Linked DNA regions of Homo sapiens. The protein of the gene in region 6 purifies or fractionates together with the protein of the main gene of each other region. This does not show direct contact. Each region holds a gene or a part of one and is shown on either strand. Other genes may lie near its edges.

Region 1 (3,500 bases), on a different chromosome or scaffold from region 6:
GCGCTGTGGCTCACGCCTGTAATCCCAGCACTTTGGGAGGCCGAGGCTAGTGGATCATGAGGTCAGGAGTTCAAGACCAGCCTGGCCAAGATGGTGAAACCCTGTCTCTACTAAAAATACAAAAATTAGCCGGGCATGGTGGTGGGCATCTATAATCCCAGCTACTTGGGAGGCTGAGGCGGAGAATTGCTTGAACCCAGGAGGCGGAGGTTGCAGTGAGCCAAGATCGCACCACTGCACTCCATCCTGGGCGACAGAGCAAGACTCCGTCTCACAAAAAAAAAAAGAAAAAAAAAAGTGAAGTGAAGTTACAACACTGGGTTAATATGTTTCCATCCAAAAAGCATATAAAAGGCAGGGCATGGTGGCTCACGCCTATAATCCCAGCACTTTGGGAGGCCAAAGTGGGAGGATTACTTGAGCCAGGAGCTGGAGATCAGCCTGAGCAACATAGTGGTAATCCATCTCTACCAGAAGTAAAAAAAAAAAAAAAAACTAGCTGGGCATGGTGGCATACAGCTGTAGTGTCACCTACTTGGGAGGCTGAGGTGGGAGAATCACTTGAGCCTAGGATGTTGAGGCTGCAGTGAGCCCTGATCACACCATTGTACTCCAGCATGGGTGACAGAACAAGACCCTGTCTCAAAACAAAACACGAAAAGCGTGATCAAGATCGTTGGCTGTGTAATCCCAGCATTTTGGGAGGCCAAGGCAGGTGGATCACTTTAGGTCAGGAGTTGGAGATCAGCCTGGCCAACGTGGTGAAACCCTGTCTCTACTAAAAATATAAAAATTAGCCGGGTGTGATGGTGTACACCTGTAATCCCAGCTACTAGGGAGGCTGAGGCAAGAGAATCACTTGAACCCAGGAGGTGGAGGTTGCAGTAAGCTGGGATCGCATCACTGCACTCCAGCGTGGGCGACAAAGTGAGACTCAGTCTCAAAAAAAAAAGACGGGCCAGGTGTGGTGTCTCATGCCTGTAATCTCAGCACTTTGGGAGGCCGATACGGGAGGATCACCTGAGGTCAAGAGTTCGAGACCATCCTGGCCAACATGGTGAAACCCTGTCTCTACTAAAAAGTACAAAAATTAGCCAGGCATGGTGGCGGGCACCTGTAATCTCAGCTACTCGGGAGGCTGAGGCAGCAGAATTGCTGGCACCTGGGAGATGGAGGTTGCAGTGAGCCGAGATTGTGCCATTGCACTCCAGCCTGGGCCAACAACAGTGAGACTCCATCTCAAAAACAAAAAGGACAGTCGTATACTTTTTTTTTTTTTTTTTTTGGAGATGGAGTCTTGCTCTTTGGGCCAGGCTGGAGTGCAGTGGCACGATCTCGGCTCACTGCAACCTACGCCTCCTGGGTTCAAGCGATTCCTCTGCCTCAGCCTCCCGAGTAGCTGGGATTACAGGCGCCCACCACCACTCCCAGCTATTTTTTGTATTTTTAGTAGAGATGGAGTTGCACCATGTTGGGCAGGCTCGTCTCGAACTCCTGACCTCAGGTGATCCACCTGCCTTGGCCTCCCAAAGTGCTGGCATTACAGGCGTGAGCCACCACCCCTGGCCCAATAGTATACTTTCTTTTAGATTTTTTGAAGTATTGAAATACTTTTCAAAACAGGTAATATAGGTTATCTTGAGAGAGGGAAACGTAAGGGACAGGAAAGGAGGGAGGCTTTCACTATTTATGCTTTTTTCCCTTACCAGTTTTGAACCATGTGACTCTATTGCCTAATTCTAAATTTTTTAAAAAAATAAAAAAGCTTATAGTTATTTGCTTCCTTCCTGTATAACCAAGAGTCTGGGACTATGGGTTATAAATTACTAATGTAGATACAATTCTGTTTCTTTTTTTTTTTGAGGTAGAGTTTCACTCTTGTTGCCCAGGCTGGAGTGCAATGGCATGATGTTGGCTCACTGCAACCTCTGCCTCCTGGGTTCAAGCAATTCTCCTGCCTCAGCCTCCTGAGTAGCTGGGATTACAGGCATGTGCCACCATGCCCGGCTAATTTTGTATTTTTAGTAGAGATGGGGTTTCTCCATGTTGGTCAGGCTGGTCTTGAACTCCCAACCTCACGTGATCCACCTGCCTCGGCCTCCCAAAATGCTGGGATTACAGGCGTGAGCCACCTCACCCAGCCCAATTCTGTTTCTTATACCTCAATGTTATATTATCCTGTGCACACCCGGTTATCAAGGGTAGGAATTTCCATTTGAGCTCTACCTGATTTTGAATTGTTTGTAGATATTGCTTGCCTAAGTAAGTGGAAATAATGTAGATGGAAGATGAAAAGTCAGTTCTCTAATTATTTCTATTGCGGGTTATGTTTAAATTTTACATAGGTCTTTTTTATACATGAGAAGTAGAAACCAACTTTAAAAGATTAGAGCTCTTAAAATGTCATTCATTATGTGCTTTTAAATGCAGGTTCTGTCATATGTTGAAGAATCCATACACCATTAAGAAACAGCCTCTGCATCAGTTTGTACAAAGACCACTTTTCCCACTACCTGCAGCCTTTTATCACCCAGGTAAAATTTCACCTCTTTTATAGCAGTTGTGTTTCAGAAACTGATGGAACTGTGCTAGGATTTTGTGGATCATAAAAGATGAGAATTTGTATATTTTCTATTTAGAAGCCTATAGATAGAATATAGGAAAAAAAGCTATATTTTTCTTATAGGCTTCTAAGTAGAAAATGTATTTGCAAGGATATTGTCCAATAGATCTATGAAATCTCAGTATGTTGTATAACATATCCCCTGCAACACAAGAGTTGCTCAATAAATGATTTCCAAAATGAAAATACTGTAGAAGTTAAAATCTGACTGGGTGTGGTGGCTCATGCCTGTAATCCCAGTACTTTGAGAGGCTGAGGCAGGTTGATCGCTTGAGCCCAGGAGTTTGAGACCAGCCTGGGCAACACAGCAAAACCCTGTCTCTACAAAAAATACAAAAAATTAGCTGGGCATGGTGGCGCACACGTGTAGTCCCAGCTGCTTGGGAGGCTGAGGTGGGAGAATCCCTTTAGCCCAGGAGTTCAAGCTTGCAGTGAGCCGTGATCACACCACTGTGCTCCAGCCTGGGTGACAAAGTGGGACCCTGTCTCAAAAAGAAGTTTCAAATGGGGATTGTGTTTCAAAGAATTCTATGTATTTAAAGCTACTGCTGTCCTTTTTTTGGATAAGAATACCCTTAAAATTAGTAAATTTCTGGCTTTCATCCAGACCTTAGAACACAGGATTTTGAATGTAGTAAAAAACTACATTCAAAAAAAAGAAAGAAAAGCTTTTTTGTCAAAATTAATTACTATGGTTTTGTTAATAATCTTGATTGTTAACGAGATATATACTTTAATTTTCTTTAATTTGGGAAATAGATATGATTTAAAATAATTTGAAGTGTGATGACTGTAATGTAGAGTTAGGGAAGTTTAAGGGGAGAGGGTATGTGTGTCTGCATGTGTGTATGTATGTAAATGTATACCTATATGTGTT
Region 2 (4,264 bases), on a different chromosome or scaffold from region 6:
AAAGAATAATATGGCAGTCGGGTCAGATTCACTGTATCTAAAGATCTTGCTCCTAATTCCGATGGCATGTCTGTAATTGGGCCCCCAATTTCAAATTTAGTCCACTCTTCTTTTCTATACAAGGAGAGGCTTTATGCTCCACCTGCTACATGACCCAAATCAATAATCCAATGCAGCAGCTTGGGGAACCCTAGGTTTTCACTATGGGACCAAATAAACTCAGAATACTTTTGAGAACTTCAATCACATGAAATAATTATTTCAGAGAAGGATCCTTGTGGAAAGACCGTAACAGGAAGAGCATTCTGAGGTAACCTTTCCCAACTTTCTCCTCCACACATTCTTGCAGAGGAAATTAAGAGAGAGAAAAAAATTAAGAAATCCCAACTTAGTCCGGACTCTAGTAGTACATGTCAAGCACAGAACCCCTAATTTAAGACCCGCGTCCCGAGGCCAGGCTCCCTCGGGAAGGTAGCGAGTGCATCGCGATAAAATCTTTCCTCCCGCCTTCGGAGTCAAACGGCCCCGCAATCCAAACAGTTTAGAATCCAGCTTGTTCTTAATGCCACAGTCAAGAGAAGATCCATAACCCGCCTTGGTCATCTGCCCTTCTGTGTTCACAACCGTTCAGGGCACAAGTTCTTCGGTCTAACCGAATCTTTCCCTGCTGCGGGGTTAAGCCCAACCTTTCTTTCTGACCTTGGGGAGCCGGCAGCTCCCCGCCCGGTGCCCTCACAAAAGCCTTTGGGGGCTCCCTCTCCAAGATGAGACGTTTATCCCATCCCCCCACCCTCCTAAATTTAGGACAGGAAAGCTTTAGGGCCACCGTCTCTCTTCCGGGACCGATCACACTTCGTTCCAAATAGGAAAAGACAGGGGGGAAAAAAGATGGAGGGGCGGGAGACCTGGACCCCGGAGAGTCACCTTCCAGCTACCCACAGGAACCAAGCATCCGATCACTCGCGCATCCCTCTCCCCTCCTCCCCCGGCCCGCAGTGCACCCCACAGGGAGCCCCGCCGGGTCCACTCTTGCTCCGACCCCCATTTCGCGCGCCCCCTCGGCTCTATCTCCCAGATCCTCAGGCGACGAATGGAAAGGGGGTCCCTTCCCTCTCACCTGGGACGGAGGCGCTCGCTCATGGCAGCTGGCGGATGGAAGCTACGCGGCGCCGCTCCGCGAAGAGAGGGAACAGAGGGGGTTGTGTTTCGGCGGCCGCCACGCCCACCCCCTCGGGCCTTGGCTCTCGCAGCCGCTCGGGTGGACGCAGCCGGTGGCGAGTACCCCTCAGTCGGACCCGTACCACCACTACTTCCGGCGTCTGCTCCGCGCCCCCCCATGTCGCTGCCGCCGTGGTACCGCCCTCTCGCGGCTGCGCAGTGGCACCATCCCAACCGCACCGACTGGTAACCCCGCCCACGGGAAGAGGCGGGCTCGGAGCGGGAGGAGCGACTAGGAGCTTCTGGGAGAAAGGACCTCCCCTGGGGTGGCAGAAGCGCTCGCCTGTTCACAGCCAACGGAGGGTACGGTATAAAAGTCAAGCCAGGTTTCAAATAAATTCAATTATGTCATAATAATATCATACAAGTATTTGAGTTGAATCCGTGTAACATATTTTAAAACAGGCGGACCTATCCGGCAGTGGTGCAGACGGCCTGACGAGGTTCCTTGGCCGGGGGTTGGGCAGGGGCCTGGGGGGCTTCCCTGGGGGGCTTGTCGCCGGGGCCGCCTGGGCTTTCAGGTCTTCCGAGGTGAGGACGGTGCTCTGTGGGGAGCTTGCAAGGGCGGGTTTGTTTTCCGCGGCCCACGTTCTAAGTCTGGGGGAGACTCTCCTGAGCGGAGAGGGTAGGGAATCGGGTGCCGGGGCCGGCGGAGGGTCTTCCTGGAACCGCAGGAGGAAATCCTCGGTGGGGCTGCGGGAACGGCTGTCCCTGACCCAGGAGCTGCCGGGCCGACCCCATCCACTCCGCAGAATCAGAACAGCTGGCAGAATCAGAACAGCTTTCAGGGAAAGGAAGGGTGCGGGGAGGTGGGCAGGCTGGTAACGCAGCGGGAGGAGGGAAAGGCGGCTGGAGAGCGCCGGAGGTGAGGGTGAGGATTAGTGGAACTATTGAGGTCCTCCTTGAGCCCGGAGGCTGGGGAGGTCTTAACTCTCTGCTTTCCGGAACCTGTGTTTCTATTTGGTTCAGTATCGTGCCGCGTTTACTCACTGTGCATGCTGCCAAGTCACCTGTCTGATCGTGTCCTACACAGGCTGACATTCACGTTTCATTCTGCCACACTCGGGAACGGTGATCGGGGAAGCATGGGGATCCGGGAGAAGCACCCACAAAACTAGCATCCTCCTGGAGGAGCTCGGGTAAGAAAACAGACACCCACGTATAGACGTTATCGTGGGAATGTACCGGGATCTTTCAAGTAGGGTTGAGTGTGAGGTGGAGTGGAGGCAGAAACGTCTAGCAGGTGTCAAGCCCTTCCTAACGTTGTTAGCCGAAGGTCCATGGACTGGCTTCATTTGTGTGTATTATTGTAAACAAACAGTCTGTGGCTTTCATCCTGTTAGTGTGTACCTCCAAAGAAAGAAAGAATGATGGCTCACGCCTGTAATCCCAGCAGGCTGGGCGCGGTGGCTCACGCCTGTAGTCCCAGCACTTTGGGAGGCCGAGGCGGGTGGATCACCTGAGGTCAGGAGTTCAAGACCAGCCTGGCCAACATGGTGAAACCCCGTCTCTACTAAAAATACTAAAATTAGCTGGGCGTGGTGGCGCACGCCCTTAATCCCAGTAATCCCAGCCACGCGGGAGGCTGAGGCAGGAGAACCGTTTGAACCTGGGAGGCTGAGGTTGCTGTGAGCCGAGATCGCGCCACTGCACTCCAGCCTGAGTGATAGAGCAAGACTCCATCTCAAAAAAAAAAAGACCAAACAACAACAAAGTAAAAATGATTACTGTAATCTGTTGGCAGAAAACAGTTTTGTTTTGAAGGACTTCGTACAGGATAAGGTGGGTTGGTTGCTTTATTGAATGGATTGGTGAAGATTGTGTCTATTTTGTAAGTGGTTTCAGTCACCCTTTTTAATCTCTTTGGTAGTCAGAAGATATTATCAGTTGTAGTACTGAATAATATTTAAACGTTTATATCTAAAGAATTAAGTGAACAAATATTGTATGCCAGGCTCAGTGCTAGGTTTTTACATACAGCTGTGTGCAGGATAGATATGTTTCCTGCCCTCTGGAACTTTATAGAAAGAATAAGAGATGTAGAAAGGAAATAACTTTCAACTAAACATTGGAATTAAACATTTTCTTTTCTGGACTCTAAAGAATAACAGGTACAAATATACATGGTATAAATGTTTTTTTTTTAATTTTTTACATCGTATATGTTTAACAAAGATGTCAAACTAATTTGCCAGTAATCTGTTGTACTAGAAACTATAAGTAGGCCAGGCGTGGTGTCTCACGCCTGTAATCCCAGCACACTGGAAGGCCGAAGGCGGGCAGATCACGAAGTCAGGAGATTGAGACCATCCTGGCCAACATGGTGAAACCCCGTCTCTACTAAAAATACAAAAATTAGCCTGGCGTGGTGGCGCATGCCTGTAGTCCCAGCTCCTCGGGATGCTGAGGCAGGACAATAGCTTGAACCTGGGAAATGGAGGTTTCAGTGAGCCGACACTGCACTCCGGCCTGGTGACAGAGTGAGACTCTGTCTCAAAAAAAAAAAAAAAAAAGTATAAGTGAAAAACAGGACTGTGTCCTTGGCCATGTATATATTTGTGCATTATGCATACATTTTATGTATATCTGTGTGTGTGTGTGTGTGTATATGCATATTACTAAATGTTAGTAGAGCTTCATTTCTCATTCTTTGATTGTGGTAATTCTAATATTTTCTTCTTACACCCTAGTGCATATTCTATTTATCACTTTGGAAACCTCTGCTGTAATCAGTAACCTTTGGCTGGGCGTGGGCGTGGTAGCTCGCGCCTGTAATCTCAGCACTTTAGGGGGCTGAGGTGGGTGGATTGCCAGAGCTCAGGAGTTCGAGACCAGTCTGGGTAACACGGACACGGTGAAACCCCGTCTTTACTAAAATACAAAAAATTAGTCAGGCGTGGTGGCATGCCCCTGTAGTCCCAACTACTTGGGAGGCTGAGACGAGAATTGCTTGAACCTGGGAGGCGGAGTTTGCAGTGAGCAGATATTGTGCCACTGCACTCCAGCCTGGGTGACAGAGTGAGACTCTGTTTCCAAAATAAATAAA
Region 3 (2,389 bases), on a different chromosome or scaffold from region 6:
TTTTTCTCTGTGTCCTCACGTGGTGGAAGGGACAAGGGACCTCTCTTCAGGCCTCTTTCATAAGGGCACTAATCTCTTTCATGAGGCCAGATCCCTCATGACCTAATCACCTGCTAAAGGCCCCACCTCCAAATACCATCATCCTGGAGGTCAGGATTTTAACAAATGAATTCTGGAGGGATATAGACATTTAGACCCTAGCACATACTGATATAACATCAAATGGTGATAGATCAGTATCCGTAGTCTCCTTTTATATACTTGAATACAGTAGAGTCTCCTCAAATACACTTAAATCATAAAAACTCAACTGTATATGCTTGGAACAAAAAAAGAAGAAGAAGAAAATAACTACTTAAATAGTGTGGGTGATTTCAGCCACTATTCTCGTTTGGAAATATTTACCCCAAGTGGGTATGAGCTAGGAGACCTGGATCTGCCTTTAGCTCATTTGATTTCAGTTCCCACAGGCCTCTCATAGTGCAGGCATCTCTGCACAACTCTGTTAGTCTCCCACTTAGTAGCCATGTTAACCAAAACGAAAGTGAGACCATATAGGATCTATGAGTCCATTTATATGTATACAAAAGAAAATAGAAATCTCTTTCTGGGGTTGCTAATAAGTTTGATTCTGTTGCATGAAGATTGTCTTCACATTTACTACACAGGGCTCTGAAGACTTCAAACACACTTACTATACTTAGCCCTAGACAACCCCAAAACAAGAAAACCAGTCAAGACCCTCATCCCTCTTCCCTCTCTGGGGAAGACATTTAAGTATATTAGTCCTTCCCTACTGGCAATGTGTCTTGTTTCTACATTCTTGAAAAAAATGAAAGGATTTCAAAATACATGGAGTATATTCATGTGATTCAAGTAAAACTAAGTGGTTTTGTGGGTGGGGACAGGGGACTAAGCAGTGCTACCCATGGACGACAGTGCCAGCAATGCCAGATTGACCTGTAGGGCTCTCATTTGACTAGTGCATTTGGGCTGTAGGCCTCTGATTTGACCAGTGCATTTGACCTGTAGGCCTCTGATTTGACCAGTACATTTGGGCTGTAGGCCTCTGATTTGACCAGTGCATTTGACCTGTAGGCCTCTGATTTGACCAGTGCATTTGGGCTGTAGGCCTCTGATTTGACCAGTGCATTTGACCTGTAGGCCTCTGATTTGACCAGTACATTTGGGCTGTAGGCCTCTGATTTGACCAGTACATTTGACCTGTAGGCCTCTGATTTGACCAGTGCATTTGGGCTGTAGGCCTCTGATTTGACCAGTGCATTTGACCTGTAGGCCTCTGATTTGACCAGTGCATTTGGGCTGTAGGCCTCTGATTTGACCAGTGCATTTGGGCTGTAGGCCTCTGATTTGACCAGTGCATTTGACCTGTAGGCCTCTTATTTGACGAGTACATTTGGGCTGTAGGCCTCTGATTTGACCAGTGCATTTGGGCTGTAGGCCTCTGATTTGACCAGTGCATTTGACCTGTAGGCCTCTGATTTGACCAGTGCATTTGGGCTGTAGGCCTCTGATTTGACCAGTGCATTTGACCTGTAGGCCTCTGATTTGACCAGTACATTTGGGCTGTAGGCCTCTGATTTGACCAGTACATTTGACCTGTAGGCCTCTGATTTGACCAGTGCATTTGGGCTGTAGGCCTCTGATTTGACCAGTACATTTGGGCTGTAGGCCTCTGATTTGACCAGTACATTTGGGCTGTAGGCCTCTGATTTGACCAGTACATTTGGGCTGTAGGTCTCAGATTTGACCTGTACATTTGGGCTGTAAGCCTCTGATTTGACCAGTGCATTTGACCTGTAGGCCTCTGATTTGACCAGTGCATTTGGGCTGTAGGTCTCAGATTTGACCTGTATATTTGGGCTGTAGGCCTCTGATTTGACCAGTGCATTTGGCAGATGGCACAACCACATGGGCTCTACTTCTGCTCTGTAAGTTTATATACCAAATCTGTGGACCACAAAGGACCTCTGTGTTGTTTTTTTTCTTTTTATTTATGTTTTATTGTTTATATTCATGGTTTGCAACATGATGTTATGAGTATATATAGACAGTAAAATGGTTACTATAATGAAGCAGATGAACATATCTAGGACCTCTGTGTTTTCAAATATTAACCTGTCACACTGAATCTCAAGGTGTTTGTCAAAGCTGGAGACAAAGTGAAAGCGGGAGATTCCCTCATGGTTATGATCGCCATGAAGATGGAGGTAAGGAAATCATGAGTTCATTTGCTATGAGGACTTTGGGAGCAATCATACCTAATGGTTCTTTTGCCTTATTTTGTAAGTTAATACCACCTTAAATATGAAAAGCCATGATTGACGAAGCATTAATTGTAGGAAACAAAACCAAACTATCCTTCTTG
Region 4 (3,500 bases), on a different chromosome or scaffold from region 6:
AAAAAGAAAAAGGCTATCATGAAGACATGATATTCTATTTAATGAATATTCTATTATATGAAGAATTTCTATTTAATGAAGAATTCTATTTAATGAAGAATATTCTATTTAATGAAGAAATTTTACCTAAGGGCATGGGGAAGTTGTGGGGGAGTGTATGTGTATGTAGGTATTTCTTTGAATTCCTAGGGGAATGGTTTTTAACTTGTTTACAAAAGAAAAATAATATTAAACAGGCACCGTTTTCTTAAGTCAAACATTTTCATAACTTACCAATTAGAATTATGAAAAAAACTTATATCTGCAAGTTTAAATTTAGCATAGCTCTTGTAAGCTATAAGCAGCTTATGCAACTTAATGTTCTAGGAATTCTATTTAAATCCAAGTAATAGTTATCAATGTTGAATCTTTTCACTCAGTCTTGACAGCCCAGTGTTGTTTTTTCAAACCTTGGGAAATATTTGTCAGATGAAAAAGTTTGTTCTTTTCTTATTTTAAAAATGAATTTAACAATTAAATGTAAACTTTTTTAGTTTAAAGTACTATTCAAAGAGGAATATTCAAAATAGTCTGAAGAGGCTGGGCACAATGTCTCATGCCTATAATCCCAGCACTTCGGGAGGCCGAGGCGGGCAGATCACTTGAGGTCAGGAGTTCAAGACCAGCCTGACCAACATGGTGAAACCCTGTAACTACTAAAAATACAAAAATTAGCCAGGCATATTGGCACGGGCCTGCAGCCCCAGCTACTCAGGAGGCTGAGGCAGGAGAATCGCTTGAACCTGGAGGTAAAGGTTGCAGAGATCAGGCCACTGCACTCCAGCCTGGGTGACAGAGCAAGACTATGTCTAAAAAAAAAAGTCTGAAGAAATTGCATTTCTGCTACTTTGTGCCCCTTTTAAAACGCAATTTTTCCTTAAACTAAATGTGTGGTTATTCTAAAATAACTTCTTTGCCTTTCCATCCAGAGCAAAATTAATGTTAACAAGTCTCTTAAAGTGAAATATGTACACTTTCCAGTTCTGAAGTAAAAAGGGATGGGAACCCTGTGGTGTTGAGAGTAAAATAAGGTGCCTGAGATAAGCTACAAGTCAAGTTACAAATAGCGACTTACTACTGCTTGATATTCTTCTTGTCCCAAACTGGCAATATCATAAAGCAAACTTCTGCTTAAATATGATACCCCTTACTTGTTGTTTTAGGATATTCGAAATCAAAGAATCTATCGTAAGCTTCGAAAAGCTGAATTGGCAAAACTTCAGCAGACCCTGAATGCACTTAACAAGAAGGCAGCATTTTATGAAGAGCAAATCAATTATTATGACACCTACATAAAGACTTGTTTAGACAACTTAAAAAGAAAGTAAGTTAAAATCATGTCATGTTCATTTGTAATGTCATGATTTCTATGAGATGTCAATTCTGTGTTTCTAGGCAGTTGGGTTGGGTATGGAAGAAAACTTTTTGCTCTGTCTTCTAACCGAAAACTAGAGTCTCAGTTTTATTATTTGCCACTGTGAACTAAGAAGTCAGGAGTAAGTGAAAGCTTTTCAATTCCCCACCAGCACTAGAATTAAAGTGGCTTACCTGTTGTATATTGAGCAAATAGCATTAGTAAGTTAGGGAAGCACTTTCATTATTCCTTTTGTCTTTTTTAGCCAAAGATTTTTTTAAATACTATTATTTTTAAAGTCTCTTGTTTTTGGAATGTATTTTATATAATTGATAATATTAGATAATGCCAGGTGTTTGCTAATTGCACAGAGCAGCTGAATGTTTTTAAATTGCTTCATGGTTTTAAAAAATTATTGACACAACTGGCAAAATTTGGCAGCTGTCTATTATCCATTAGCATAAGTATTATAGGTTTTTATATACAGTATAGCCATTTTTAATGAATATCCTTTGCTTAGTAATTATTCTTATCACTAGACTATGATCAATGCTAGTTAAATTTTAATTACCCATTTAAATATGTAGTACAATATTTTTATATAATCCTTGTCATCAAATTGGCAGGAGGAAATGGTGCTGTATGGAAAAATCTGTTGCATTAATCATAGATCTTTTAAATTTTATTGCAAATTGACTATAATTTTATGTATTCCTGGGGTACAAGGTGATGTTATCATTTATTATTACAATGTGAAATAATTAATTCATATATGCATCACCTCAAATACTTAGTTTTTGTGATAAGAACACTTGAAATTTACTCCTAGCAGTTTTTAAATGTGCAATACATTATTATTAGCTATATTCACCACACTGTGCAATAGATTTCAAAAAAAAACTGATTCCTCCTAAGATTTCATATCCTTTGACCATCATCTCCCCGTTTCCCCCACCCTCCAGCCTCTGAAACCACCATTCTATTCTGCTTCTATGAGTTCAACTTTTTTAGATTCCACATATAAGCGAGAACATGTGGTATTTGCCTTTCTGTGCCTGGCCTATTTCACTTAGCATAGTGTCCTCTAATTCTGTCCACATTGCCCCAAATGTCAGAATTTCTTTGTTTTAGGGCCGAATAGTATTCTTCTGTGTGTATATATACCACATTTTCTTTACCTGTTCATCTGTTAGTAGATTCTTAGGTTGATTTCATAACTTAGCTAACGTGTGAGTAGTGCTGCAATGAAGATGGGAGTGCAGACATCTCTTTGACAAACTGATTTCACATCTTGGAGTAAACACCCAGAAGTTGGATTGCTGAAATCACAGAAGATTTGATAAAGGGATGCAGCCACATTTAAACCTTATTGATTTGGCTCCCACTAGTCCTGAATTTTAGTTCATTTGCTTCAGGCTTCTCTCTGTTTCTCTCTCTCTCTCTCTCTCTCTCTCTCTCTCTCTCTCTCTCTCTCTCTCTCTCTCACTCTCGTGCTCTCTCTCTCTCCATATATAGTTCATTTGCTTCAGGCTTCTCTCTGTTTCTCTCTCTCTCTCTCTCACTCTCACTCTCGTGCTCTCTCTCTCTCCATATATAGTTCATTTGCTTCAGGCTTCTTTCTGTTTCTCTCTCTCTCTCTCTCTCTCTCTCTCTCTCTCTCTCTCTCTCACTCTCGTGCTCTCTCTCTCTCCATATATAGTTCATTTGCTTCAGGCTTCTTTCTGTTTCTCTCTCTCTCTCTCTCTCTCTCTCTCTCTCTCTCTCTCACTCTCGTGCTCTCTCTCTCTATATATATATATATACAAAAATACACTAAATATGTATATACACACACTACATATAGTGTGCATATGCACTTATAATTACATAAACATATACACTATACACTAAATATAGGAAGGAAGGAAGAATATATACATATACATGCAAGGAAGAAGTTGGTCAAGCTTACTTTCAGTAGAAATGAGATTGTTAGGGATTTACTTTAAGGCATTTCACACAAGATCCACAGTCGGGCGAATTGGATTTGGGTTCTGATTCTCTCTTATGTCGTGTGATCTTGAGCCCAGTTCAGTGAACTTTGAGCCTCAGTTTTCTCATCCTTAAG
Region 5 (3,500 bases), on a different chromosome or scaffold from region 6:
AGAATTGATTTGGGTGATTTCTTCTGGCAATTTCAAAAGATATTTTTGTTGCCTAGACTTCTTATTCTTGCATGTACCACTAGAGGCTATAGTTTGCTTTCGTAAAGGAATTGGCATTTCTCTTGGACCAAACTCAAAGAAGCTGCGTCTAGGGCCTAAATCTTCTAATTTTAGCTACAGAGTAAGTATTTGATGGCATTTAGAGAGTGAGTTCGTGGAATTAATGCTATGTGAAATTGACATCATAAGCACGTGACATGTAGGTAATTTGTTCTTATTTCTTTTCACATTGGTATTGATTATTTGATAAGGCTTGGAAAGCACTTATTCAATACCTGACACACAGTGAGCATTCACTAAAAATTAGCTTTAACCATTATTTAAATTCTATTAATAAATTCTCAGGAGGACAAATTTAGATTTACAAGCTTCAGTATGAGTTTTTATAAATTTCAATCTGATTTTTTAATTGCCTTCTAAAATATTTATCCTATTCTCAGCATTATTACTTAATTTATACGGCAGAATTATGGGAAAATGCATTTTTCTGTTGCCTACTAATGGACAGTGTATAGTGTCATGGTTCTCACCACTTACAAACATCACTGGATTAAAATAAATCTCTATTTTAAATCCTTACTGACATATAAAATTTGTTCTTTTTTTCAAGTGAATATGCTTTTGTGTATGTGACTGTATTAAGAAAATTGAGTCTGAAGAAAATAAGAATTGACTTTATGGGTCTTTTGTAAAAGGAGGTTGTGTTACAATCACCATTGCCTAAAATATTTGTAAATATAACCTTTTTAGAAACGTATATATGGAGGCTGTGATTGTTGCCGAGTAAAAAGTATAAGGATTTGTTTTGTGAATCATTCTATTCAGCCTGATTTTAGATACACCTTGCTGGTAAGTGTTACTTAGCCATCAGTGTACCAGATGTTTGATTAACTACTATAGCAACCTGCCCTTGTGCTGTTGGGGACATATTACCCATCTACCCCGTGAATTATTAAAGCCTGGTGAAAAATTTTATTTCAAACCCTGTTTGGAAGCACGTGGAGAGTAGTGGGGTTCAGTTGTTGAGGAAAGGGTGAGGGCAGAGCATGCACTTAGGTCAGTTATGAATTGAAGGTGAATAGGAGGAGGAGAGAAAGAACAACCGACAATTCCAGCACAACCATGGGTGTGCCTGGGGGAACATGTGGTTCCATGTGACAGTTGAGGCATTTGGGAGACAACCCAGGTCTTGACGTTTGAGTACCGGTCACATGCTCACAGTTAGAGTTCATGAAAAGTTTTGTTTTTCCTCAGCCTTTGAGTAGGCACCACTGTTCCGCAGCCTTAGAATAGCCAAGGAAAAAGAAAGCCAGGGAAAAAGAAAGCTGCTTTGTTATTGTCCTTGCTTATCCTCTCGATTTTGCCACTCACTCTCCCTGTTTTCCCATGTGTGGAACACTTTCCTTTTGCTAAAAGTACCTGCGTATGAGAAGAAGGATGCCGATAAGTTGGGGATTGATTTTAAAAACAAGCAAAGATATGTTTTTTATGGTTAAATGATAATGAGGTGGGAGATGGGGAAGCAAAAGAGAGGCTTGCCTTAATATTTAATCTTAAACTTGGAAAATAATAGTGATCTGACTAAACATTGCCTCATTTTTGTCTGTATTGTTTTGAGTAGCTTAAAGGAAGAATAATGTTTATGCTACGTATTAACTCATTCAGTTTTTCAGTCTTTTCGATATTTCTCATTTGGATTTATCTCCATTGTGATTTTTCTGTCCACTTTGTAAGCCACAAAATACTCATTCCCTTCTATCAGTTTTAACAACTTAAATTTTTATATTTAAGTATTACATTTAAATAATTTAAGTCAATTCACACAAATATAAGGTAACTAACTTCTTTTAAGATGAAGTTTTATGAAATAATGTTTGCATAATTGTTTTTCATTTGTTCTTTGGTAAAAAGAAATAATATATTATTGTTATGATATATCTTAAATCACTGTGGATATTAACTCCTAGAAATACTTTACCAGCTGTTTACTTAGATAATAAAATTATATTATTGCAAGAAATCCTTGTCTCAACTTTCAAACAAGATGAGAAGAAAAATGAACTTGTGATTTCCACATTGATACATTTTCATATGCAACCTGAAATGGTAAAGTTATAAATAAACTATTTCATTATTAGTTTCTACAAGGGAAAAATAACTGAAGCAGCAAGCTTCTAATGTATTTTTTTAGCATAGTGTACCAGATATATTATGGTTTGCCCACTATCCTTTCAACTTACATTTGCATGTAGCTCTTCTTTGCCTCTCCAAAACTTAGGTTTATTTTAAGGCCTCAACCCAAGGCTTCCTCCATTAATGTAAGTGCAGTCAGTTATGATTTCACTCTTCTCTAAACTGACCACCTATTGTGCTCCTTTATCGAATACGGGCCTCTGGCATTTCTACCATACAACTGTGGAGATGAAACATAAATACGTTTATAAAAAGTACAAGCTTTCTCAGGCAGGGGATTTATCGTCTATCTCCTTTATGTACCCCATGATGCTTATTTAACATGGTGCTAAATGTGGTGAGCGCTCTCTGGGTGTTTTGTGAATTCATGTAAGATTAAAACATAATATTTTGGAAGTTATGCAACCCTTTAGACGAGTACACCCATACAAATTAGTCTATAAAAAGATTTAGGAATGACTACCAGAAGAATAATTGCATTTGTTTAGACATGCTATTATACATTAAAATCCCAGTTTCTTAAAGACTGTTTTTCTTTTTGAGATCATTAGGATCTTTTTTAAACTGATTCCTTTTTCCAGTTTGAGATACACACACACACCCACACACCCACCCACACCCACACCCACACATCCACACACCCTTGGTAGAAAATGTGAAAAATAAGGGGAAAAAATCCTCATGTTTTTCTACCGTACAAAGATAATCACTGTTAACATTTGTTTTGTTCTGCCAGACTTATCATTGGATTTTAAGTAACAGAATTGTAATCCTGTCATTTTCACTTAACATTGTAACACTTAAACTCTTTTCTATTCCAAATTCTTTGTAAATTTTATTTTAACAGTTTGCATTATAGCCTGCGGGAGCCGAGCCCTTTAATTGAATAGGTAGGAAGAGTGGATGGTGAAATGCCTATATTTTTCTCTCTTGTCTGCTATAAAAGACATTTGCAAAAGTTGCTTCCATGAGGCAGAAATTGAAATGGGACTCAAATTCAGGTGTACTGAATTCTGCTCTTGTGCTTTTTCCAGGAAACCAGAAGTAAACTTTAAGTAGCTGTTGCTAATAATGATGAGCATCACTGGAAAGCTCACTGTGTGCCAGGGACCGTGCTGTGTGCTTTGCCTGTGTTCTCTCATGATCCTTATATTAATATAACCCACCAGGTTGACACTATTTTCCCCATCTTATAGGTGAGGAAACTGAGGCTTAGGTCAAGTAATTTGCCCAAAATAGTATTCAGA
Region 6 (3,500 bases):
CCTAGGCCCTCCTGGTTGCTCACTCTGTTCCAACTGCACTAATCCCCTCACTATTCCTGGGCATGTTCCTGCCTTCAGGACTTGGCTCTAATGCACCCTCTGCCTAGAATACTCTTCACCAGGTGTCCATGTGGGAAAAGCCCCCGATCCTTCAAGTTTCTCTTTAAATCTCATGTTGCCCATGAAGCTTACCCTACTAACCTGCCCACCTGTGACCAATCCCCCTTACCTACTACACTTCTTTCCGCCATAGAATTCATCATCTTCGTACATATGTAATTCTCTTACATATATCATTTGTTGTTTTGCTTCCCCATCAGAAAAGAGGCCCAGGAGGGCAGAATCTTTGTTGTATTCATAGATGTTAACAAGCGTCTGGGAGAGTTCCTAGCACATAATATTTTGCTGAATGTTGAAAAAAAGGAACATTTAAAAATATGAACAGAATTCTTATAAATCTAGATTTCTTCACTGCTCTTACGAAAACTCCCAATGGGAAAAACTGGGTGCACAGTACTACAACTAGAGCTGATTAGAAAAAGTATCTTGTTTAGATAAGACAAACCCTTTTCAATTACCCTGTCTCTACTATTCACAAATGTATCACAACTAATATTAGGTAACAAATAGAAACAACTCAGAAATTTCCTTAAAACCAACAATAACGTTCTTATTGAGAATACTACAGGTTGTCTCTGAACCATGGCAAATTAGAGAGTTTGTGCCCAAACGGAAGGGAGCAGCCACTATTTATTCCACTTGTTTCTGTTTACCTGTCCAGTCCTGATTTTCCAGCACTTTAAATATTTGTTTATATCCGAAGAAGAGAACTACAAGGCAAACAGTGCAAATGTAATGTAAAAAATGGTCATAGTTACACTGTGCTTTACTGAGCTAAATTCAATCATTCCTATTCATTAAACTGGGAACTTAACACATTGACCTATTAAGAGTAACGAAGCTCTATTTTTTCAAAAACACTTGGCAAGACAGAAGGTTCTTCTCTTCCCCGCAAAGTGTCAATTTCCTTTCTTTAGGAATATAAAGTCTTTAAGGGCAAAAGATGATTCTTCGAAAGTTCCTTCTAAAAAAAAAAAGCCCTTCACAACGAAAGCAAAAAAAAAAAAAAAAAAAAAATTTTTCATGAAATACAGTCTCATCAACTATCAAGAAAGGAAGAAAGATTAGAAGAGAAGTCTGAGGACAACTGGTCGAAACAAACATTTTATTCAATTCCATTAATTCACTCAACAGGTTCATCTACATACCAGACACTGTGCTAGCGTTGTAGATACAACAGTGAGTGAGACCTCTCCTGCCCTCATAGAACCTGCAGTCTTATTACATTTGGCACTGCTCTAGTCAGACAAGATCTTTTTTGGATCCCAAGACTGTCTCTAAAACACAATCACTATCCCAGCTACCTTTAGTCACTCACAAACATTTTAAGCATTCCTTGTATACAGGTATCTAACTAATAAATATTTAAAAGAAAGAAAGAAGGTAAAGTCCTATTATATGCCATTAGAAATCTCCCTCCGGGCTGACATTCATTAATCAGCACCCTTTACATGTATCTATTCAACCAGATAGGGATTCCACCTTAAATATACTAGAAGCCAAACTATCTTTCTATAGTCAATAGGGAAATTATAAAAATTCTGCCAAATCTGTGCCCAGGCGCAGTGGCTCACGCCTGTAGTCCCAGCACTTTGGGAAGCCAAGGGTGGGTGGAAGGCTTGAGCCCCGGAGTTTGAGACCAGCCTGGGCAACATGGTGAAACCCCATCTCAAGAAAAAATACAAAAATTAGCCAGGCATGGTGGAGCACACCTATAGTCCCAGCTACTCAGCAGGCTGAGACGGGAGAAGTGGCTTGAGCCCAGGAGGTCGAAGCTGCAATGAGCCATGATCACACCACTGCACTCCAGCCTGGGTGACAGAACAAGACACTGTCTCAGAAACAAAACAACAAACATTCTGCCAAACCCTTACTAAAATCATATTTCCTTGAACTATGAACTGTTAGAGATAATTTGCTCTCAGAACTGACCCCAAATAATATCTACTACATTTATCTGTGCTAATAACCATCCCTTTGATAATCTATTCCAGAAACTTCATGATCTTCAAGCTCACCAACCTTCATTTTGGGGACTCATATAGTCTTTTAAAATATTAGAATTAGATTTCTTTCTAACCATTCCTCCATTCCTAACCTCAATTATTCACAGCAGGTAAAACTTGCCTACAGGACAATGCCTCTCAACTTTTTTCACATCATCACACAAACAGAAAATGATGGACATGGTAGGAAATACTGGGTAAAGAGGCTCAGTGGCCCCAAACCCCATGCTAACTCAACTTCTCCTGCCACCACAGGACTGGGAAGAAACAATAGTTTGGCACACCTGTAAAGCATTTATGTTCTATTATGTCACTTGTTGAGCAAAGCGCTGAGTTAAGAGTTTTTATGAAGGCCAGGCCTGGTGGCTCACGCCTATTGTAATCCCAGCACTTTGGGAGGGTGAGGCAGGTGGATCACCTGAGGTCGGGAGTTTAAGACCAGCCTGATCAACATGGAGAAACCCTGTCTCTACTAAAAATACAAAATTAGCCGGGGTGGTGGCACATGCCTGTAATCCCAGCTACTCAGGAGGCTGAGGCAGGAGAACTGCTTGAACCCAGGAGGCAGAGGTTGCTTGAACCCAGGAGGCGGAGGTTGCGGTGAGCTGAGATGGCGCCATTGCACTCCAGCCTGGGCAACAAGAACGAAACTCCGTCTCAAAAAAAAAAAAAAGAGTTTTTATGAAATGAAAATTAGCATTTTATGAATTTTGCAGAAAGTCAAAAAGCAAAAATCACCCTGAAGTAATGAAAACTCAGCATTGGGAATTGCTAGCTACATGAACAAAACCAAGTGTATTTCTAAGGTCCCTCATTCTACACCTTGTGCAACTAGATCCCATAATCGTTATCTTTTGTTATCAATGACTCACTAAAAACACAAAATTGGGCTGGGTGCGGTGGCTCACGCCTGTAATCCCAGCACTTTGGGAGGCCTAGGCGGGTGGATCACAAGGTCAGGGGTTCGAGACCAGCCTGACCAACATGGTGAAACCCCGTCTCTACTAAAAATACAAAAATTAGCTGGGCATGGTGGCGGGCACCTGTAATCCCAGCTACTCAGGAGGCTGAGGCAGGAGAATTGCTTGAACCTGGGAGACGGAGGTTGCAGTGAGCCGAGATCGCGCCACTGCACTCCAGCCTGGGCGACAGAGTGAGACTCCGTCTCAAAAAAAAAAAAAAAAAAAAAACCACGAAATTGTCCTCCATATTTTCATAGACGTTTCTAAATTTATCTTTTAAAAACTAGCATTTCTGCTCCTCTAGATTTAAATTTCCTTGTTAATTATTAGTCTCCCTCCCACACTATAATCATCATTTGCAATATTCTTTGACAAAAAACACACTTTCTAAATGAACAAGGTATCTGTTCCA
Region 7 (3,500 bases), on a different chromosome or scaffold from region 6:
TTCCCAATGTCTATCTGTATTCTTTTTGCACTTCCCCTGTAGAAACCGATAATTATCTGAATTCCCACTGTTTTCTTCTAAAATTATCTTTGACAACCTTTTAGAAAACTTTCAGTCTTAACCATGCTACTCTACCCCACCACCATTAGAAGGCAAGATAACCACTATTAACCTTTTCTTGACTTTTCTAAGACTTTTCTGTGTGTTTACACAAATGCAATTATGTGCCTAAAAGTTTAGAATACAAAAATGAGAGTACAGTATTTTACAATCTGCTATTTTTACTTTTTTTCACATGTCAAAATTATTCAGAATACCTGCATAATAAATAACTATTTTGTCATTTGTCTATTTAGGTTATTGTTGATTTTTTTTTCCGATTATAACCACAGTGCAGCATTCTGTGTAGATACTATTTTACATGTTTGTTCAATTATTATTTTGATAAATTCCCAGAAGTAGAATTACTAAAACATTTGTACTAATTTTTTCTTTTATGAGCAGTTTAAGAGTAGCCAGATTTGCCTTCTATAATGTAAGTACTCTCATTTGAGGTTAGTTTTTTAAAAGCTTTGCTATTTGGTGGATTTTCTTTTTTTTTTTATAGATTCATTTTTTCTTTTTTTTTTGAGACAGAGTCTCATTCTGTTGCCTAGGTTGAGTGTAGTGGGCACTATCATAGCTCACTGCAGCCTCTACCTTTCAGGCTGAAGTGATCCTCCCACCTCTGCCTCCCAAGTAGCTGAGACTACGGGTATGTGCCACCATGCCCAGCTAATTTTTAAATTTTTCTTTTTTTGTAGAAATGGGGTCGTGCTATGGTGTTCAGGCTTGTCTTGAACTCCTGGACTCAAGAGATCCTCCTGCCTCCGCCTCCCAAAGTGCTGAGATTACAGGCGTGAGCCACCACGCCTGGCTTTTTCTACCCTATTTGTATTGTAGCAATAATCTCTTCATTTCATGGTTGCAATATTTTAGTTTCGGGTTAAAATGACCTTTGGTGGTTAGCTTAGTAACTTAAATCATTACTTAATGCCATTTTAGTGGGATATAATAGTCTAAAATGCAAAGAAATAATTAGGGATAATTTTAGTTTTTTTAAACCCCGTGTTTGACCATTTAACATCTGCGTTAACCAGAGAATTGATTGCTACTCTTCTTTGTAAACCATTTTGTGTGTATGTGTGTGTGTGTATATATACACACACACATACATACATATATATACTTTTTTTTTGGTAGAATTAGTGCACTGAAAGGCTCCAAAGGAAAAGACTGTGAAATCCCTGTGCCTGTGGGTATTTCAGTAACTGATGAAAATGGTAAAATTATAGGTGAGTGTACTATAACTCCAAAAGTTGTAAAAATGTGCACGTTTTCTAAAATGAAACAATGGAATAGCTTCTCTTGAGTTTCAGAAGATTTTTTAACTAACAATTTTAGCTACTATTCTATAAGAGAGCATTTTTAAAACTTATAAAAGTTAAATTGACTGCTAGATTTAAGATTGTTTTAAAGATGTTACAGTTCTTACTTGGTCTTAAAATATATAACTAGGCTCTTTTCAATTGTTTACTGAAGTGTTTTTCTGGGGTCAAACTTTTAATAGATTTGTAAATTGGAATTTCCTGGACTGTTTTTCTGAAAGAACAATATTACATTAATGATTCTACTTATTAATTATAGATTTGTAATTGAGAATTTCCTGGCATGTATTTTTGAAAGTAAAATATTACATTAATGATTTCACTTACTAATCTATAGATTTGTAATTTTGCATTTCTTTGCCTGTATTTCTGAAAGAAATATATTGCATTAGTGATTTCACTTATTAATCTTTGCTGTAAGTATTTCTCTCCCTCTTTTTAAGGAGAACTCAATAAAGAAAATGACAGAATTTTGGTAGCTCAAGGAGGTCTTGGTGGTAAATTACTTACAAATTTCTTACCATTGAAAGGCCAGAAACGAATAATTCACCTTGATCTAAAACTTATAGCTGATGTAGGCCTAGTAGGGTAAGTATCGTTCATATTTTTATTATTATACTTTCAGAGAGAGAGTTCTTGAATAGAAAATAAATGTAAATGGTAATTTGGGGCCATAATTATTTCTAATTTATGGAATTTGTGTGTTGTGTATGTACTTGGAAAATATGCTGCTAAATATTATTTTCAAATTGCCAACACAGAGTTTCATAGTTATTGCTTATTTATAAAATTAAGACCAGAGCAATTGAATAGATCAGTGGGAATGTTAGAGAATGCATAAAGAAAGAAAAATCAATCAAATGCAATATTACAAGATGGTTAAATAATGTTACCAGATATTAATAATAAATCCAAACAAACCGTATTATTATTAAAAATATATAGAAGGAAATAAACAGGGAAAAATGGTTGACATAACTCTTTTGGGTCTTAATAGAGACATTAAAGTATCGTTAATCAAATGGCTAAAGACCAGTACAGACAATCTCAATCCTCAGACTTACGCACTGTTGCCGCCAAATTGAATCCTGCTATGACTGTATATCCTTCTTGCCTCTGCTTAGGATCTATCTAGTCTCAGCAATGTAGGCCTCACAAGAGTGTCCTCTTCCACCAGCCTCCATTCTTTCATTAAATAATGCTGTTTAGCTGTGGGGTTTGCAGTGCAGCTGCCCACTGGAAGGGGATAGATAGTAAGATACAGAATACATAAAGGAAGAGAAAACTTCAATTTGCATTTGCTCTCTCTCCCCCATCCCCCCTCCCTCCTATCCTCTCCCTCTGGCCCTATCACAGTATTACACAGTTATTCAGATGGAAAGCTTAAGGACAAGATAAGGAAAACTGCCTTATTACTGTCCTACTCCAAATTCCTAGTTCTATTTTTTGCTTCCCCATAGCTTCTTTCTAAGTTCTTTTCATGTTCCTCTTCAGTCATCTCACTGCTTCTTTACCAGACTCTTAAGTCTGTATCCCTCGTCTTTTGCCCTGCCTGACCAGCCACTAGAGCTTACCACCATTGGTTTAGGGTTCACAGAGGCCCCATTCCTGCTAAAATTATAACAAGGAAAGATGTGATCCTGGCTTGCCATTTACATTTATTTTTTTCAATAAAGCACAGTTACAAGAGTTATTAGATGTAAGTTCTATAATCCTCTATATTTTTAGGAACATTATGGGCTTAATAGGGTCTTATGGACAAGACTGGCAGTCCAGCCAATCACAGTTGCATTTTGCATAAACATGTGTTTCAAGTTCTGAAGAGACAACTTTACAGTCTAAGAGGAGCCTAGCACGGCTTAGTCATAAAAGTGGAGTGGCATGGAGGACTCAGGTTAGACTATTTAGGTTAGGATCTCAAATCCTCTGGAGGCTGGCCAGCTGGTCTTGGGTAAATTACACAGCCTCTCTAAGCCTTTGTTTTCTCTTCTTTTTTTCTTTTCTTTTCTCTCATTCTTCCTTCACTATAGTTTTTTGCTTTTCACCACGTCATTTGTTTTCTCATCTTTAATA

The links.
Region 1: the proteins of SUCLA2 (region 6) and NFU1 fractionate together in Homo sapiens (co-fractionation; one large-scale study listed by BioGRID). This does not show direct contact.
Region 2: the proteins of SUCLA2 (region 6) and MTNAP1 purify together in Homo sapiens (affinity purification with mass spectrometry; 2 studies listed by BioGRID and IntAct, with this or other methods). This does not show direct contact.
Region 3: the proteins of SUCLA2 (region 6) and MCCC1 purify together in Homo sapiens (affinity purification with mass spectrometry; 2 studies listed by BioGRID and IntAct, with this or other methods). This does not show direct contact.
Region 4: the proteins of SUCLA2 (region 6) and IQGAP2 purify together in Homo sapiens (affinity purification with mass spectrometry; 2 studies listed by BioGRID and IntAct, with this or other methods). This does not show direct contact.
Region 5: the proteins of SUCLA2 (region 6) and LONP2 purify together in Homo sapiens (affinity purification with mass spectrometry; 2 studies listed by BioGRID and IntAct, with this or other methods). This does not show direct contact.
Region 7: the proteins of SUCLA2 (region 6) and GTPBP10 purify together in Homo sapiens (affinity purification with mass spectrometry; 2 studies listed by BioGRID and IntAct, with this or other methods). This does not show direct contact.

What each region holds. Positions count from the first base shown.
Region 1 is NC_000002.12:69,430,936-69,434,435, reverse strand, and holds part of NFU1 (NFU1 iron-sulfur cluster scaffold homolog, mitochondrial), read left to right. Parts: intron 1-2,430; coding exon 2,431-2,534; intron 2,535-3,500. UniProt on the Homo sapiens protein: Iron-sulfur cluster scaffold protein which can assemble [4Fe-4S] clusters and deliver them to target proteins.
Region 2 is NC_000017.11:73,230,969-73,235,232, forward strand, and holds the start of MTNAP1 (mitochondrial nucleoid-associated protein 1), read left to right. Parts: upstream 1-1,464; 5' UTR 1,465-1,521; exon of another isoform or gene 1,522-1,661; intron 1,662-1,692; exon of another isoform or gene 1,693-1,749; intron 1,750-2,187; exon of another isoform or gene 2,188-2,251; 5' UTR 2,252-2,357; intron 2,358-2,488; exon of another isoform or gene 2,489-3,000; intron 3,001-4,264. Other genes in the region: protein VCF1, read right to left, coding at 1,118-1,338. UniProt on the Homo sapiens protein: Critical regulator of mitochondrial DNA (mtDNA) abundance. Binds dsDNA throughout the mitochondrial genome without sequence specificity and controls mtDNA copy number by promoting its replication.
Region 3 is NC_000003.12:183,017,108-183,019,496, reverse strand, and holds part of MCCC1 (methylcrotonoyl-CoA carboxylase subunit alpha, mitochondrial isoform 1 precursor), read left to right. Parts: intron 1-2,159; coding exon 2,160-2,231; intron 2,232-2,389.
Region 4 is NC_000005.10:76,696,785-76,700,284, forward strand, and holds part of IQGAP2 (ras GTPase-activating-like protein IQGAP2), read left to right. Parts: intron 1-1,202; coding exon 1,203-1,363; intron 1,364-3,500. UniProt on the Homo sapiens protein: Binds to activated CDC42 and RAC1 but does not seem to stimulate their GTPase activity. Associates with calmodulin.
Region 5 is NC_000016.10:48,271,800-48,275,299, forward strand, and holds part of LONP2 (lon protease homolog 2, peroxisomal), read left to right. Parts: intron 1-3,500. UniProt on the Homo sapiens protein: ATP-dependent serine protease that mediates the selective degradation of misfolded and unassembled polypeptides in the peroxisomal matrix.
Region 6 is NC_000013.11:47,991,274-47,994,773, forward strand, and holds part of SUCLA2 (succinate--CoA ligase [ADP-forming] subunit beta, mitochondrial precursor), read right to left. Parts: intron 1-3,500. UniProt on the Homo sapiens protein: ATP-specific succinyl-CoA synthetase functions in the citric acid cycle (TCA), coupling the hydrolysis of succinyl-CoA to the synthesis of ATP and thus represents the only step of substrate-level phosphorylation in the TCA.
Region 7 is NC_000007.14:90,353,216-90,356,715, forward strand, and holds part of GTPBP10 (GTP-binding protein 10), read left to right. Parts: intron 1-1,242; coding exon 1,243-1,334; intron 1,335-1,870; coding exon 1,871-2,015; intron 2,016-2,491; exon of another isoform or gene 2,492-3,500. UniProt on the Homo sapiens protein: May be involved in the ribosome maturation process. Complements an ObgE(CgtA) function in E.coli ribosome maturation. Plays a role of GTPase in vitro. When missing, disorganization of the nucleolar architecture is observed.